Homo sapiens: one gene and its partner. The protein of the gene in region 1 purifies or fractionates together with the protein of each later gene. This does not show direct contact. Each region holds a gene or a part of one and is shown on either strand. Other genes may lie near its edges. The genes, in order: SMS and KYNU.

Region 1 (7,000 bases):
GAGTGTCCTTAGTGTGAAAATAAAGTCACTGCCTCATTCATCATTTTGTTAAATTTGTGATACCCAAGTTAGTATTATAAAACCTTTGTTTGTCTTAATCCTTTCTTTAAAGTATTACTATTTCAGAATTCTTTGATATACCCAAATTCTCCTTAACCTGTTGCGGACATTGACCAAATGGTGATTGATGGGTGTAAGAAATACATGCGAAAAACGTGTGGCGATGTCTTAGACAATCTTAAAGGAGACTGCTATCAGGTAATTGTTTTCTGGATAATGTAGTTTTAAGTGAACTAATAATATAAGTTATTGATCAGAATTGTGCCTTATTAAAACAGCTTTTAGTATAGTTGGTTGAGAAGATAAATACATCATCTGTCTCTTCATATGAGTTATATGTATATTTGTATTTAGGGTGCACACGTACCAATGATGGGAAAGCACCAACTCCAGATTCTCTGAATTAAATAAAATTAATTCTTTTTTTTTTTATTATACTTTCAGTTCTACGGTACATGTGCAGAATGTACAGGTTTGTTACATAGGTATACACGTGCCATGGTGGTTTGCTGCACCTATGAACCCATCATCTAGGTTTTAAGCCCTGCATGCGTTAGGTATTTCTCCTAATGCTATCCTTCCCCTAGCCCCCTACCCCCGATCGGCCCCGGTGTGTGATGTTCCCCTCCCTGTGTCCATGTGTTCTCATTGTTCAGCTTACACTTAGGAGTGAGAACATGCGGTGTTTGGTTTTCTGTTCTTGTGTTAGTTTGCTGAGAATGATGGTTTCCAGCTTCATCCATGTCCTTGCAGAGGACATGAACTCATTCTTTTTTATGGCTGCATAGTATTCCATGGCATATATGTGCCACATTTTCTTTATCCAGCCTATCCTTAATGGGCATTTGGGTTGGTTCCAAGTCTTTGCTATTGTGAATAGTGCCGCAATAAATATACGTGTGCATGTGTCTTTATAGTAGAATGACTTATAATCCTTTGTATGTATACCCAGTAATGTGATCGCTGGGTCAAATGGTATTTCTAGTCCTAGATCCTTGAGGAATCGCTACGCTGTCTTCTACAATGGTTGAACTAATTTACACTCCCACCAACAGTATAAAAGTGTTCCTATTTCTCCTCATCCTCTCCAGCATCTGTTGCTTCCTGACTTTTTAATGATGGCCATTCTAACTCCAGCTTGGGCTGCAGAGCGAGAATGTCTCAAAAAAAAAAAAAAATCTTAATAAAAAAAAAAACCTTAATAATAATAATAAAAAAGAAACCTTAGTAGTAAAAATCAAGTAGTACACAAAGCTAAAGATTGCTTTTACATATGTACAAAATTTCCAAGTAAAATAATAAGCTAAATCTGGCAAATTAAGTCTATATTATGCTCAAGTAGGATTTAGTTAGAAGTGTAAAGATTTCAATTTTAAGAAATCTGTCAACTTAATTCGTTAGGTGAATAATTTAAAGGAGGAAAATAACAGATGACAAAGAATTTGAGAATATTTAGCAGTCATTTTAAATAAAAACTAATGCAGTATAGCCATGTAAAATTAGCCAGGTGTGGCGGCGTGTGCCTGTAATTCCAGCTACATGGAAGGCTGAGGCAGGAGAATCGCTTGAACCCGGAAGGTGGAGGTTGCAGTGAGCTGAGATTGCACCACTGCACTCCAGCCTGGGCAACAGAGGGAGACTGTCTCCAAAAAAAAAAAAAAATATATATATATATATATATATATTTCCATCTAACAAATCTGTACATGTACTTCCTGAATCTAAAATAAAAGTTAAATTATAAATTACTTGAATAAAATAAAATTGCAATAGAGATGAAACTACCTGAACGTTAATAGAAACTTAGGTTGTGGTAAATAGAAAAATAGAAAATATAATAGATAGCAAAAGCCATTTCCACTGAAAATAGGAAGAAGATGAGGATGCCTATTATCTTTTTCAACATTATTTTTTGAGGTAGCTGAGATAGTAAAGTAGATGAAAACAGTATAAATCTAATTATTTGTAGATGATGTGAATACTAGAAAATCCAGGAAACTTACGTAGGAAATTATTTGAATTAATGAGAATTTGATAAAGTGATTGGATAAAGCCAGCCTAGATTTTTTCTCTATACTAAATGCTAACTCATTTAAATAGGATTTCCTTCCCACCCATTTCCTTTCAAAGTAATCAAGTGTTAAATTCCTAGGAATATATTTAACAAGAATGGTATTGTGAGACTGGTATGAATTATGTTAAGATGTTATTGAAAGACATCAAAGTCTGAATATGTGGAGAGGCATGCTGTATTTCTTGTATTGAAAGAACAGGCCGGGCTTGGTGGCTCACCTGTAATCCCAGCACTTTGGGAGGCCGAGGTGGGTGGATCACTTGAAGTCAGGAGTTGGAGAACAGCCTGGTCAACATGGTGAAATCCTGTCTCTACTAAAAATACAAAAATTAGCCCGACGTGGTGGTGGGTGCTTATAATCCAGCTACTCTGGAGGCTGAGGCAGGAGAATTGCTTGAACCCGGGAGGTGGAGGTTGCAGTGAGCCAAGATTGCACCACTGCACTCCAGCCTGGGTGGCAGAGCAAGACTCCGTCTCAAAAAAAAAAAGGAACAATGTCTATTCTTCCCAATTTATTATGAGTAATCCCAAGGAGGGGGGAGGGGTTTAAAAGTAGACCAACTGATTTTGAAGTTGATTTGTAAAAATAAGTATCTAAGAATACCCAAGAAAACTTGAAAAAAGAATCATAGTGTGAAGCGAAATATGTCCTATTTGTTGTTAATGTACTATAAGGCACGATAATCAAATAGGAAGTATGAAAGGAATACACAAGGACCTAGGAATGTCAAAGGAACTTGAACAGGTCTGAGTATGTATTCCTACACACTGCTAATATGGTCTAAGATACATTTCAGTTGACTTGGGAAAAGCGTTAGTTGAGTTAGTGTGTGATGCCGGTATAAGAAGTTATCCATCTGCATGAGAACCAAGTTAGCTAACAATAGAAATAGGAATTTTGGTGACTTAGGCTCTAAATGTAAAAACTAATACATTTAAGACAATTTAGAGTACTTAACCTTGGAGTTCAGAAATCTCTTAAAGATAGGACACTCAAACTGTTAATGGTATTATAATGTTGTCATTACCAAGCCAAAAGTCAGACTAGAAGAAAGACTAGTAACAAGCATGACAGGGAATTGATCCCTTGAATAATGCAGAGTCCCTACAACTTAGAAATGAAGTTAGCTAAATTTAAAAAGGTATAGAGGATATTTACTGGTACTTCTCAGAATAAGTCAAATAACCTGTAAAAAGTACCACAAGACAGGCCGGGCGCGGTGGCTCACACCTGTAATCCCAGCACTTTGGGAGGCTGAGGTGGGCGGATCACGAGGTCAGGAGATCGAGACCATCCTGGCTAACATAGTGAAACCCCGTCTCCACTAAAAAAATACAAAAAAAAATTAGCTGGGCGTGGTGGCGGGCACCTGTAGTCTCAGCTACTCGGGAGGCTGAGGCAGGAGAATGGCGTGAACCCGGGAGGCAGAGCTTGCAGTGAGCCCAGATCGCATCACTGCACTCCAGCCTGGGCGACAGAGCAAGACTTGTCTCAAAAAAAAAAAAAAAAAAAAGTACCACAAGACGGTCAACCCTGTTGGTGGCCCAGGAAGTTCTTGTGAAAACATTAGCAACAGACTTCACAAAATTTAGTAGAGGGGCAATATCTCATGCTGGGGAGGTTGTGGGGAGACAGGTGCTCATATGCATTGCTGGTTGGCGTGTGAATTGCTATCAAAACCGGAACACACGGCTTCTAGCCGGTGTTTGAGCACACAGCCCACAGTTAAAAAGGTGTCACTACAAGGTTTTATTATAGCTGTGCTTGTAGTGACCAAGGCTTGGCAATGACAACAGAAAGAATGTTTTTAGTGGAATGGTGTATTTTTTAAAATGTGTGTTATTACCTGGAGAGATGTTGGGTGAAATGTTCAAGTTCCAAATGATGTGTGGGATTCAAATTTTACAAAAGAGAACATACATTTGTGTTTGTGTGCAAGTATTCGTAAGAATCTGTGTGAACGTATGGAAAAAATATGAGCATATCAAACAGGATTAATACATGGATTGAAAGCAACGGTGGTGTTAGTACCTCCTATATTTTTCCATAGTTGGACTTGTATGATGCATTGAGGCAAGTTATAAAACAATAGGACAGAAAAGTCCCAGTTTCTTAAAATTATAACTGTGAGGCTATAAGAAGAATGATGAGAAATAACATGGGATAGGTTATCTTAGGGAATTGTGGTGAACTTTTTTTAATTTTTTTTGAGTCAAGGTCTTGCTCTGTCACTCAGGCTGGAGCACAGTGGTGCGCGATGATCATGGCTCACTACAGCCTCAAACTCCCGGGCTCAAGCGATCCTCCCACCTCAACTTCCTGAGTAGCCGGGACTACAGGCAGATACCACTAGGCCCAGCTGATTTTTCTTTTTTTTCTAGAGACGGGCTTTCACCATGTCGCCCAGGCTGCTCTAGTACTCCTGGGCTCCATTGTTCCGCCCACCTCAACTTCCCAAAGTACTGGGATTACAGGTGTTGGGCCACTGACCCCAGCCTGGCAAACTCTTAAACTCTTGGTTTCTGACTATTATATTTAATTTTTCTTTTACTTAATGTATTTTTTTTTTGAATTAGAAAACTAAAAGATGACAGTAACTCCTGTTTAGTTCAGGATGTTGCTTAGATCCAGATGTGTCCCCAGCATAGAGCCTCAGTACTTCAAAGATACAGCCAACCTCAAACTTCTTTTCTGTGTTAACTATATATGATCTGTATGGGAATTCCAGCTGGTCTCTTTATTGACTCTGATGGTGGGAGCTGTTATATATAGCTTTATTAGCAGTAGCCCAAGCGTTAGAGAAAATTGAGAAATAACATGTTAATAGTTTGAGTAAGGTGCAAAAGTGAATCCATAAACAATGAAGTCATTCAGTGCTTAGTATAAAAGAAAAATTAGGCTGGGTACGGTGGCTCATGCCTCTAATCCCAGCACTATGAGAGTCTGAGGTGGGCAGATTGCTTGAGCCCAGGAGTTCAAGACCAGCCTGGGCAACGTAGTGAGACCCTGTCTCTAGAAAAACTTTTTAAAAATAGTTTATTAATTAAAAAAATAAAAATTAAAAGAAGATGATACAGATAGTGATAGGAGAGGCAGTATAGATTAGAGATGAAAGTATGAAGTTGGCTTTCAGATAGTAATAGGTATACTTCGTGGATCTATGGGCAAGCTGGATAACACCTCAAGTTTGTTTCTGCATTGGTAAAATGGGATGATAATAGTGCCTCTAGGATTGTTGTTTTATTGAAATGAGAAGGCATATAAAGCATATATGGTAAGCACTTAATTTTTGCTGTTAACAGACATAGATGAAAGTTTTTTGGTTCCTGTAGCAGTTGCTGTGGATAGCTGTGGATATAAGCCCATACTTGGCGCTTTTTTCCTCCTTCCTTTACTATTGTTTTTTGTTTAACTACATCCACATGTTGGCTCACTCATCTATTCCTGTTCTTTCTGGAAGGTTCTAATAGAAGACTGTATCCCGGTACTGAAGAGGTACGCCAAAGAAGGGAGAGAATTTGATTATGTGATTAATGATTTGACAGCTGTTCCAATCTCCACGTCTCCAGAAGAAGGTAGATTTTTTTAACCAAGATATTTATGATGGAAATGTTTCTCTTGGCACCATGTGAGGGTGAAAGGATCCTAGAGATTGTGTAGTTCTCTCACGTTTTTGAAAAAGGGAGTTAAATTGAGGTCCATGGTGGAAAGATGACTGGATTTGGCTTCAATTCCTGTTCTGCCACTCAATGAGTGAACTAATTCAGTCATTTGAAACAAAAATGAAGTAAAATGACTCATTACATTAATGAGACAGTAAATCATTTGACAATTTATTTAAATTATGTGATTTTCAACCTGTATTGGTACAAACTGGTCACTTATCTAAGCAACGACATAGATAATTCCCTTTCTCAAACCAGATGTTTGTTCCAAATCACAGCTAGTTCGTGTTTTTTTCTATAAACTCAAGTTCCTGCTGAGTTTGCAGGCTCTGAATTTCTCTCAGGATTTTGCTGCTTGCCCCCTTATTTAAAGCAGTTTTCTTTCACGTTTCAGCCACTGCCTTTGTGTCAAATCTATTGGTATTTTGAGAGCGAGCAGTGCTAGGTGGATGTGATTTTGGCATCCAAAATCAATTTCATTATCGTTCATGAACAAGCTCTTTGAATAGTGGGTCTTACACTCGTGGCTCTTTTTCTTTTTCCTCTTTTGGTATTGAGTATTCGAATATTTTACTTCAGATGTTGTGGATACATACAAACCCATATTTATGAAACTTGTTCTTTTAAACATTCAGATTCCACATGGGAGTTTCTCAGACTGATTCTTGACCTCTCAATGAAAGTGTTGAAACAGGATGGGAAATATTTTACACAGGTAGGCTACTTAACAGTTTTTTCCCTCAAAACGCTCTAAGACTTTCCTGTTTTGAAATCTGAATGCACATTTTTGAAATGTATATCTATTAAGGATAGAGCGGCATCATCGGATTATGTTCTTTCAAACAGTAAGCTTCTACGTTGACCTGTTGTCTGTTGGGAATTAATGAGTTATCAGCCCTGGTCTTTCGCTGTAGTATGAGCTGCTGCCACCAGATGGAGACACAGACTGATTTTCTTTTTTCCCCTCCCCTCATCAACATACACTTGATGACAAAGCTCTGGCTGTACTGTGAACTCCTGCCACCAGATGGAAGCAGATTGTGGTGTTTTTCTCATTCTCTAGGGGATTCTAAACTTAAACTTTAAAGATTACATTAATTGGGGTTAAAAATATACATATATATCTCCTATTGAAATCCTTAACAAAATTTTGAAAATGACAGCAAAGACAGCTAATTGATAATCCAGTCTCTTGGTACA
Region 2 (11,600 bases), on another chromosome or scaffold:
AATTAGTAGAGCATCTGTTATTAATTTACCTTTTTTATATACTTAGGCAGATCTTTTTTTTAAAGCTCCCTCTATTGTGTGTGTGTGTGTGTGTGTGTGTGTGTGTCTGTGTGTGTTCTGTAAGAGAAACCACTTGACCTAACAATCCTAGAGCTAAAAGTCAGCTTCATAGGTCATTTCATTCATATTTCTGCCTTTGGGAGACATTACAATTACATGCCACTAAAAGCTGATGCTCTCTCTCATTGACATGGTTTCATAATAGAATAGCAAATGTTGAGCAGAATAAGGAATCCTGGCTTGGGAATAGGAAGGCAGAGAATGAGATCCAGAAAAACTTCCAGAAGAGGTCATTTTTACCTTGGGTCTAAGATTTCTGGTGTTCTGCTAAGAAGTTGGGGACAAGGGAGGTGGGAACTGCTGGTAAACGGGAAATAACGTCGATATTTTAGTTCCATGGAGCTTATCTTAAATATCTCAGAAATCCTACTTAGGAAGAAAAGTTTAAGTCTTGCTCTTTTACTCTCCAGTACTCTAGTATCTTTATGGACACTTTTAAAGTTACCTTCTATGATAATGACATGATATTAATTTCTCAGAACTGCAGTTAATCCCTGGGGTCTGTGGATTCCGAATTTCAAATCCTCCCATTTTGTTGGTCTGTTCCTTGCATGCTAGTTTAGAGGTAAGTGATGTGTGTTTCAACCTTCCCACATCTTTGCGTTTTTTCTTGATCTGTTTGTGACAATTCATAGTACTTTCTCTGCTACACAGCAAGATGATACATGTGCACTGTGCATGAACAAGGGACAGAAGGCAGCATTCCCCTTTAGGACAGTGATGATGTGGTGAGGGTCTCCCTTCATTCATGTCACCAGCCCCCAGCACAATGCTTGGCACATTGTTGGCACATAGTAAATATTAAATGGAACTCTTTTGGGGAGATACGTTTTTTACTCCACTTAGAATCTGTTTAAACATGAATAAGTTATTTAACCTTCTCTTGGCCTCTCTTTATACCAAATAAGCATGCAATATTTAGTTCTTCATAAATTCGCTCATTCAACATAAATTTATTGAGAAAATATTGTGTGCCTGATGTGATTACTAGGGACTGTACTTTTTCTAGTTCATTGTAGGTGAATGAACTGACCAAGTACCATGTGACAAAGCTAGGAAAGACTTACTTGAAGGAAAAAAGAATAATCAGAGTAAACCAAAGATTAAATAAGGTTGTCTCATAAGGTAGGGTGGTTTTATGATTTTTTTAAATTGGGACTTCTATGCCATTATGTCCATTTATAGTCTCCACTATCACTGACTCAATATTTTCCTTTAAATTAATTTATATTTTTATTTAGGTAAATTTAGTCTCACCCTGAAATGATAAATATACATAACAAGAAAATGAAATTGTGATTCCTTAGATACTATTATTTAGTGTTAGACTAAATGTGGCCAAGTAAAAATATATAGGTTATATAGTATAAAATTCATATATAATGTAAATGTATAAATATTTACATAAATAATGTAAATATATAAAGTAATTGTATATTTTGTATACCTATATTTAAGTAAAATATATTTTAAGTAAATGTGCATATATATTTCTAATAGAAGTTTTACATAGAACTATTCAAACAAGGATTTGAAATTTTTTCATGTCTCCTTCTAAAATCATGTAGTTTATGATATTTTGGCAAAAACTTATAGAGGATTTCAGCATCAAATGAGTGACAGGATGAAGATTCAAAATTCCTTCTAATCTAAAATTGCATAATTCTGTGAACACTTACAGCAGTTTCTCATTCTGGCCACTGGATGGCAGCATCAAGTTCCTCTGTTTTTATTAAATTTCACCACTGGATAGTGATCATCACCTCATTTCATTCTGTCTCAATTTAAAGCGCACCTACTCAGTTTAACCACTAGATGGAGCTTGTGTTGTTTTCACTTCATGGCAGAATTTTTCTTTAACTTGGAAAATAGACACAGTAACGAGATTTTTCAGCCAGTGATATATATTTTTGACAGTTTTTTGAGTAAAAATCTGCTTAGTAAATCAGATAATGATATTTGAGTTGTTTTTATAGTATCCATTCAGATAAATATTTTGTTTAAACATTTTAAAACAAAATAAAGTTTCTGCATTCCTTGCAAGTTTGTATCAGCGAGATGTGTGACAATATCAGAAGCACCAGGACATACCTTAGGAAGAGCTTGTACCTAAAGTAATTTCCTCTGGTGCCCATATCTTTGCAAATAACTTCTCAGACGTACCTGGAAATTTCCTTTTAGACGCCTTCACTTTGGCATACTTTCTGCAGTGGACTGGCTTTTCTAGTAGTATTCACCCTTCTCTTGTGGGAAAGGAAGCACATTCCTATTCTTCCAGCCACTGTTTTCCTACCACACTGTATTAGAGTCACCTAGACAAAGTTTTTATTTTCAGTTATAATCTGAGAACTGATTTATTTTTTCTTTTTAATATCTAAACTTAAACCTCAGCCTCCTGAGTAGCTGGGACTACAGGTGTGCACCGCTACACCAGGCTAATTTTTGTAGTTTTTTGTACAGATAAAGTCTTACTATGTTACCCAGTCAATATCTAAACTTAAAACCCTAAAAGCCACAAGAAGAATGATATGCATTTCTCTGGATCTTCTAATCACTTACATATTTCCCTTGAGCCTCTTTCTGCTCATTTCACTGCTGAGACTATGTTCTAACCAAAATTATCTTTAGTTAATCAAGCCTTATGTTGGTAAAAGTGTTTTTTCAAAATTCTTTCCTACTGTAAATTGCAAAATTTTTGAATTACAAACTAATGCATTGAATTGCTTCCCTTTCTCTGTTAAAATGTCTTATTTTCTAGACATTTATGGGTTTCTCATGTGAGTAAACATCAGTGAATTAACTATGCTTCTATTAATACTTACCTTCCTTTAAGTTTTATTTATTTATATTTAGAGATGAGGTCTTGCTCTGTTGTTCAGACTGGAATGCAATAGTACGATCATGGCTTAGCATGGCCTCAAACTCCTGGGGTTCAAGTGATCCTCCTGCCCCCACCTTCCAGGTAACTGGGACTGCAGGACTGCACCACCACACTTGGCTGATTATTATTATTTATTTATTTTATTTCTTTATTTTTGAGACAGGGTCCCCTTCTGTCACTCCTAGAGTGCAGTGATGGGATCTCAGCTCACTGCAACCTCTGCCTCCTGGACTCAGTTGATCTTCCCACCTCAGCCTCCACAGCAGCTGGGACTACAAGAGTGCACCACCATGCCCGACTAATTTTTGTATTTTTTTATAGAGACAGGATTTTGCCATGTTGCCCAGGCTGATCTTGAACTACTGGCTGCAAGTGGTCCTCCTGAGTAGCTAAGACTACAGGGCATGCCACTGTGCTCAGCTTATTTTTAAATTTTTTTAGAGATGAGGTCTGGCTATGTTGTCCACGTTAATCTGGAACTCCTGGCCTCAAGCGATTCTCCTGCCTCAGTCTCCTGTTTGAAATGTTTGTTTTTCAGTGCTATAAAGAAATAGCACTTGAACGCAAATTTAATTTATTTAGTAAGGCCATTTTTACTTCCTGCAGAGAGGATACACTCGCCAGCAGTTTTGCCATGAGAGTACACCGAACAAAGGAGACAGGGTCATTTATAACCTGACGTGTCCACCCTACTGCTGTGTCCAGTTCCAATGGCTGGAATGGGACCTCCCATTCTGTATTTGTCCCGATTGGCTAGTAACTTAGAACTTTTTAAAAGACGTAAAGGTAGAGGGTAACAAAGGAAGGAGGAAGTAACTTGTGGAATGCTAAGAAAGGTAAAAACACTTTTAAATAAGGAAGAGGAACAGGCTGTGACCTAATGCTGCTTGGACCAGTATAAGCATGCCAGGGCAAATATTTAGGCTAAATTGTGGGAGCTAAAAACATAAAGTATATTGATTTATTTATTACAGCTAGCAGATATTTAAGAATGTTAGCACAGGTCTTTGAATAAATTTTGCTTCTAAGAGAAGTTACTATTTATTCCTAATTAGACGGGAAGGAAAGTCTTTGAAGAGGAACCTCTACTTTACTTTTTATACTCCTAAGCAGTTGGGATGACAGACGTGAACCACTGCACTCAGCCACCTTATCTTTTTAAACCAGTTTATTCCATTTTAGGAGATAGGTGGTTGAAGTTTCAATAAACGAAAGAAGTAAATGCATGAATCAAACTGCCTCTTTGTTGTCTCTACTTTTAAGAAATATTCAACACAGTCAAATACGAACTGGAGGAGAGATTCTATACTTAAGAATCAATCACATATAAATAAGACCTTAGATTTTTAATGCAATGACTTTTTAAAAAGATATTAATATGGCTTTTTTTAATAAATACATGTGTATATGGTTGATTGATATAAAAAATAGCACATTGTAATCAGTTTCAAACTGTCCTTTTGTTTATATTTTTTTATCTGAATCATTTATACAATAGTTCTTAAAATATTGTGGATCAAGGGATGAAGCCTGAGGCCAGGAACCTGGTGGCAAGTACTCTCTCCCTCAATGGACACGAAGTGTGACCTTACACAAGCAACAACTCCCTTTGGATGTATTTGCCTTATTTTTTAAAGTAAGATGTTTGGACAAGATTATTTTGGAAGTCTCCTCACTTTCCAAAATACTTAAATTTAAACAATACGTATATTATATTTTGAGGGTTCATATTTATGTGTAGCGATAGGTAGACAATATTTAGTCCCTTTCAGTATTCTGAATTCATAATGAAATAAATGGCTTCAAAATACAAAGTTAGAGCATTCAATTAAAATACATGGCGAGTCAGAAGACTCAACAAAGAAATGTACTATACGTTTCCTTTCAAATTTCCTAGAGAGACAGTTTTAAGAATTTAAGAGAAAAATATGACAATTGAAAACATCACACCAAACTTATTTTTCCTGTTTAAACTTATCTAGCTTTTCAAGCTTTGTGTTCATTTTGTCAGTAAGAAAAAAAATACAAGTAGTTGAAACTCTGCAAAGTATTATCTTCTAAGCTGAATATTTTTCAAACCACAGTTTTCATTTTTTCTAATTTAAAAAAATTATTTTCTCAATATTGAAAGCATAACATTTATGAGAAGCAAAAAAGAAAATAGAATATTTATGTTACTTCCCTATTATTCTCTCTCAATATTTTTATGTGAAGCTCAGAATAGACTTTTACCCTCTGTGAGATGAATTTAAAAGTGCCTCAGAATGCAGTTGCCCTTATTGTGGTTGTAATGGAGAAAGTAAGTTTTATATTTAAAAGTTATTTTATGATTTAAAGAGTGTTAACATTCCACAGTATATTAAGATGGAAGCTATTTGTCATACCAAAAAAATTGGTTTCTAGTTATCAAGAGAAAGCTTCAAGAGCAACATTCCCTACGCCCCTTTAAAAACTAAATGCAAGTAATATTCCTCCAAGTTTTACTAACCTATGCACACAAATGAACTATCATTAAATGTGATACTTCACATATCGATTGCCCCCATGTACATATTAGGGCACCCATAGCATAACCACAAAATTTCCTAGAATTATTTATTATTTAGAATTTCTTAGAATATTATTAAGCTCCAGAGAGAATCTTGGAAAGATTCCTCACATAGTCTTTTTATTCCAAACTTCACAGCCAAACCAGCTGTGGCCCGTGCCTTGCCTGTCCCTGCTCCTCTGGGAGAATTTTGATTCTTGTCCCTTGACCCAAAACTTGGCAGTGTTCCCTTGAGTCTTCATTATGCCAAGTCTACCTACATTTGCTTTGCCCAAGAAAATGAAGGAGATGCCTCCTACCAAGTTCTGTGTAACCTGGGTCATCTGAATCTTGGAGCACTATTATTTGTACTGCAGATCTCTCTCGGGAGCTTATGAAGCCAAGATATCAGCCTCTACTTGAGCTGTCTCTGTAGACTTCAGACATTGTCTGGGAGTTGTGGTTGAAGAGAGAGACAGGCACCATTCTGTCCTGTTTTTCCTCTCTTGCTTAGATATCATTTACCTTCAGTACAGTTCCCAGCCTCTCCTTCAGCCAATCCATAGCCTCTATACAGTATAGTTCCAGGAAATCTATGGCTGAATGGTTTGAGTTTTATTAGAGTGCCTGCCTACACATGCCACGTGTACATACAGGAATAACTGTTTTCATAGACTTGATAAAGTCTCAATATCACCAAATGACCCTATCTTTGCTCTTGATATCTTTGCTCATGACACAGAAAAGGAACATTAAGTGGCAGGCCAGTGCATCACGCTCTGTTTGCAGTTCATTTAGTTCTTATACATAGGATATATTTTTACACTCTACTTGACCTTAAGAGATAAGCCAGAAAAGCACATCTGTTCTGACCCCTAATATTCCAACACCAGTTATTGTGTGCCCTTGTCACTCATCTTAATATAAGACATCTCAGCCCACAAATGGCAGTATTTTCACACCAGTGCTAGAGTTTAGAAGGGGGGAAATGAGAGAAACCAAGCCCAAATGCTTCAGTAAAAATAAATGCATTATCTAATATTATTTGCTTTCCTCTCTGAGGAAACTTAGCATTATTATTTAACTGCTTGTTTTCTTATTGTTAAACTGGAAGAGATTTGGGAGTCAGTAAAGCAGTTATAAATATCACCAGTAACACTGCTTTACACATTTGCACATGTTTAGATCATATTGCACTTTTTTGAGGATAAACAAACTTTACATCAAAGTTGGAAAAGTCTTCTTGATTATGATTTCAAAAAGTGGTTTTGGGGAAAAGCTTACATTGTATGATATTTAAATCCATTTATTAAGGTATGTTTTACTTGATTATACTAACTTAATTTAAAATAATTTTGAAGGTATGTTCCCGGACCAAATTGAGGGTTGGGCTGCTATTTCTCATGGCCCAATAACAAGATGCAGATGAACAGGGGAGGAAGAGAGTTTTTATTTCTGTAACTGGTTACAGGGAGAAGGCCTGGAAATTATCACCAGACCAACTCAAAATTACAAAGTTTTACAGGTGTAAGTGTGCATTCATCTGAAGACATAAGTGATTAACTTCTTTTAATCTACAACTAAGGTCTGAGTCCTGAAGACCTTCCTCTGGAGCCTCAGTAAATTTACTTAATCTAAATGGGTCCAGGTGCTGGAGTGATTACCCTTATCTTGTCTTCTGCTAAATCACTGAAGTTTGAGGAGTTCCTTTAGACCTTCAATAAACTTGTTTGTAGAGGCCTGGAGAGTTTCTTCACAACCACAGTAAAACTTGTTTAATCCTGAATGGGTCCTGTTAAGAATTCCTTCATTATTCTGTCATGCTTTAAGGCCCAGGGAAAGCCTAGGCAAAACTCTTGATAGGCTTTTGTTCATCCCAGCCTTTGTATAAGGGCACTGACTTTTTTAGTTTTTAATATTTAATGTAACCACTCGGTCAGTACTGAAACAGTTGTGATGGAGGCCTGCATTAGTGAAACCTGGCCTGCCACAGGTACATGATATTAACTTACATTTTCTTCCTTTGCAAGTTTTATTTAAGTGACATTTGTACAATTTTTCTGTCATGGAAATTTTACCTTCAGTATTTAATAGCAAAGCATTTAAAGGAGGGCATGATTTTACACAAAAAGATTATGTAAAGGGAGATATTTATTGGAAAGATCAAATATGGGCATTTCCTTTTTATGCATGATTTACTCTTAATTTTTGCTTCTTTGTAAATCAATAAGACACTTTAATCTGATTGTTTCTCATTCCACAGATCTTTAAGCAAGCGACAATGAAGGCATTGCGGAAAAAATCTGTTTTGCTAACTGGCTATCTGGAATACCTGATCAAGCATAACTATGGCAAAGATAAAGCAGCAACCAAGAAACCAGTTGTGAACATAATTACTCCGTCTCATGTAGAGGAGCGGGGGTGCCAGCTAACAATAACATTTTCTGTTCCAAACAAAGATGTTTTCCAAGAACTAGAAAAAAGAGGAGTGGTTGTAAGTATGTCTTGCTTTGCTACCAGATTTTGTCTATGGGCCGCATGTTAGGGATAAAATTTGGACTCTTTGGTTTATTCATTGTTGCATGTTATTTCACATCAGTCAGTCAATTAAGGATAAATTAAGTGCCAACTAAGCCCTCAGCACTGTGCTAACTGAAAGGCATAGAGATCTGTCGTTTCTGATAAAAGAGAAGATACCACAAACTTGGCTTATAGGAATAGTTTTTTGTAACTTACTCATTCTTTTCATAACAGTTTGGGCAGAAAAAAGTTATTATTTCATCATACTCAGTCAGGACATTGTTTTCTCTAGTCTGTACTACAATTCATTTATTGGATGAATGGAATTAAAGATCATACCAATTTATTGAAGGGTTAAAAAAGAAAGTCTTATTTAGTCGCTTGATCAAATTAAGTTATTTTCAACCTTGTCACTTCTGTCAAAAAAGATATATATACACTTCTCAGGAGTGGTAACATTGCAAGGAATAATTTTTTTTTAACCCTTCAGCCTATATGACCTTCTTGGTCTCTTGAAGAGAACTAATAAATGTGAACTGAGTAATTTCAGGGAAAAAAGATAATGTATCTACTTCCAATGATTATGTAATTAAGGCATTGCTTGGCTCATGTTTACCTGTAGGAGAGGTTACTCCCAGATGCTGGAGACACAAGTCAGAAATTCAAGTTTCTAAATCAAACTCTGCTGTCGTCAAACTCTGTCCTCTTTGGAAAGTTCATTAGGATCTATTGGCTTGAAATTTTCATCCGTATTTGGGGTATAAAATAAATTACCTCCAAGAGTTGTGATTGGATTGAAATGGGACAGCACACATAAACTATATACTATATTGTCTAGCCTATAGCAGGTGTTTTCTAAAGTTAACCATAGTGATCTCTAGGCATGTCAAATTATCTGGTGCTACTTCAGGACCTACAATGTAGCCCACTTCTTATTTGTGAGATCAAAGATTAGAGAATTAAGTTCAAGGATAATTTACTAAAACTCTCCAGACCCTAATGAGGTTTTCATTCACTTAAATTCACCCAAGAATTCCAGTCCTTCCATGGGGTCCCCACGGGAAAAAAAAAACAAAATGTATTTATGGTCTATTAAATGCTTAAGGAAGATAGTTGCTGAATAGATTTCAGGAATCTATCTTGGCTATTTATGCACCAATCCATTCTTATTTCTTAAATTATTATCAAGAGAAAAGTTTCATAAAACAGAAAAACACCATGTTTTAAAGTAAAAAAATTTTGCATATATATTAATTTTTAGGGAAATCATTATGAAAGTGCTTTACATAAGTTTATCTGGAATGTAGATTTTCAACGTGTGAATAATGCTAACATTATTGTGGCTTTATTTTTTCCCCACAGTGTGACAAGCGGAATCCAAATGGCATTCGAGTGGCTCCAGTTCCTCTCTATAATTCTTTCCATGATGTTTATAAATTTACCAATCTGCTCACTTCTATACTTGACTCTGCAGAAACAAAAAATTAGCAGTGTTTTCTAGAACAACTTAAGCAAATTATACTGAAAGCTGCTGTGGTTATTTCAGTATTATTCGATTTTTAATTATTGAAAGTATGTCACCATTGACCACATGTAACTAACAATAAATAATATACCTTACAGAAAATCTGATATAATTTTTCAGAGTCTGTGGCACTAAGGAGTCCACAGGGCTGCCTAGGTGCTTTGTGTTTGGGGGACCAAAACTGTGTTGGTTCAAGTATTATCTATACAGTCTCTATAAGCTGTCACATTTCATGGTCATTGAAATGTTTTATGTTGGTTTAATTTCTGATTTAACTGACAACTTCATAATGTATGTGCAATTATTGTGTCAAATTTAGAAATATTACTTTAGCTTCAATTTACCAAGGAGTTTCTTTGAAGCATTGTAGTCTGATATATATATATATATATATATATATATATATATATATATATATATATGTGTGTGTGTGTGTGTGTATATATATATATATATATCATATATATATGATAGTGGCTTTCAAATTTTTTTGGGTACAATCCACATTGCTCCTGCTGATCTGTAATATCAGAAACCAGTATTTATGTGAATATATGAGAAATATTATTGATTCTAAGATATTTTATCATATTTTAACATCTTTGAAAGAGGACCCATCTTTCAATTTTCGATCAATAGTTTCTTACAGTCACCATTGGCCATCTTTCTCGTTACCATCTATGAAATTAGCATGCATCTCAAATAAACAGTTACCATCTTCTATTTGATAAAATAGTCTAAATAGCAAAAATAAAAGTTTTTACAATTATTTGCCTGTGCTCTAATAGGTACTATTCTATTTTATCTCATAAGAAATGTTGGAAACTCATTATATTGATTTCCTTACCCACTCATGGGCCCTAATTCACACTTTTTAAGAATGTTTCTTTCTTTAATGTTATCATAATCTCTTACTTTTTAAATGAGAACTTCCCCTAATATAAGAGCTTAGATATTATATTACTATGTTTCCATAGTAAATAAATAACCCCAAGATCTTTTTGGGGATTAGAGATATAAGAAATATGTGCTCCATCTCTTGACATCTTTATCTCAAATCTATGGACCTTTCTTACCCACTGTGAAAAACCTAAAGTTACACTTAGCCCTGTTGGACTTACCTAGTTTTCAATTGTTGATGCCACAATCATTATTTATAAGTTGACAAAATAGTGTAGATTTGTATACATAGTCAACAAAAAGAGTGACATAATTATTGCCTCCAATTAAACAAGTTTGAATGAAATAAACAAACTTAGATAAACACTTCGGATGGTAGACGTAAACAATAATATGTGGAACTCCAACATCAACACCTACCAATACCAGTAACTACTGATATTTATCATGTACTTACCATGTACCATGTATTGTGCTACATTACTCATGTTATCTCCCTTAATTGAGTGGCTACATACTGCTTTAGCAAATCTTCCTACTGTAACTAATCCTCATAGATGGAAGAGTTCTCAAAACCTTAAAACTCATGCATAAGTGGATTCATATACATATATAAAAATATATATAAATATATATACTTTATATATATTTATATTTATATATTTATATATTTATATTTTAATATATTTATATAAATATATATAAAGTATAATATATATAAAGTATAAATATATATATATTTATACTTTAAGTTCTTGGATACACGTGCAGAACATGCAGGTTTGTTACATAGGTATACATGTGCCGTGGTGGATTGCTGCACCCATCAACCCGTCATCTACATCAGGTATTTCTCCTAATGCTCACCCTCCTCTTATCCCCAACTACCCAAAAGGACCTGGTGTGTGATGTTCCCCTCCCTGTGTTCATATGTTCTCATTGTTCAACTCTCACTTATGGGTAAGAACATGCAGTGTTTGATTTTCTGTTCCTCTGTTAGTTTGCTGAGAATGATGGTTTCCAGCTTCATCCATGTCCCTGCAAAGGACATGAACTCATTCTTTTTTATGGCTGCATAGTATTCCATGGTATATATGTGCCACATTTTCTTTATCCAGTCTATCATT

Evidence for each region.
Region 2: the proteins of SMS (region 1) and KYNU fractionate together in Homo sapiens (co-fractionation; 2 studies listed by BioGRID). This does not show direct contact.

Annotation. Positions count from the first base shown.
Region 1 is NC_000023.11:21,978,709-21,985,708, forward strand, and holds part of SMS (spermine synthase), read left to right. Parts: intron 1-168; coding exon 169-258; intron 259-5,595; coding exon 5,596-5,710; intron 5,711-6,435; coding exon 6,436-6,515; intron 6,516-7,000. UniProt on the Homo sapiens protein: Catalyzes the production of spermine from spermidine and decarboxylated S-adenosylmethionine (dcSAM).
Region 2 is NC_000002.12:143,032,637-143,044,236, forward strand, and holds part of KYNU (kynureninase), read left to right. Parts: intron 1-599; coding exon 600-685; intron 686-4,499; coding exon of another isoform or gene 4,500-4,535; exon of another isoform or gene 4,536-4,629; intron 4,630-7,791; coding exon 7,792-8,022; intron 8,023-9,410; coding exon 9,411-9,536; 3' UTR 9,537-11,600. UniProt on the Homo sapiens protein: Catalyzes the cleavage of L-kynurenine (L-Kyn) and L-3-hydroxykynurenine (L-3OHKyn) into anthranilic acid (AA) and 3-hydroxyanthranilic acid (3-OHAA), respectively. Has a preference for the L-3-hydroxy form. Also has cysteine-conjugate-beta-lyase activity.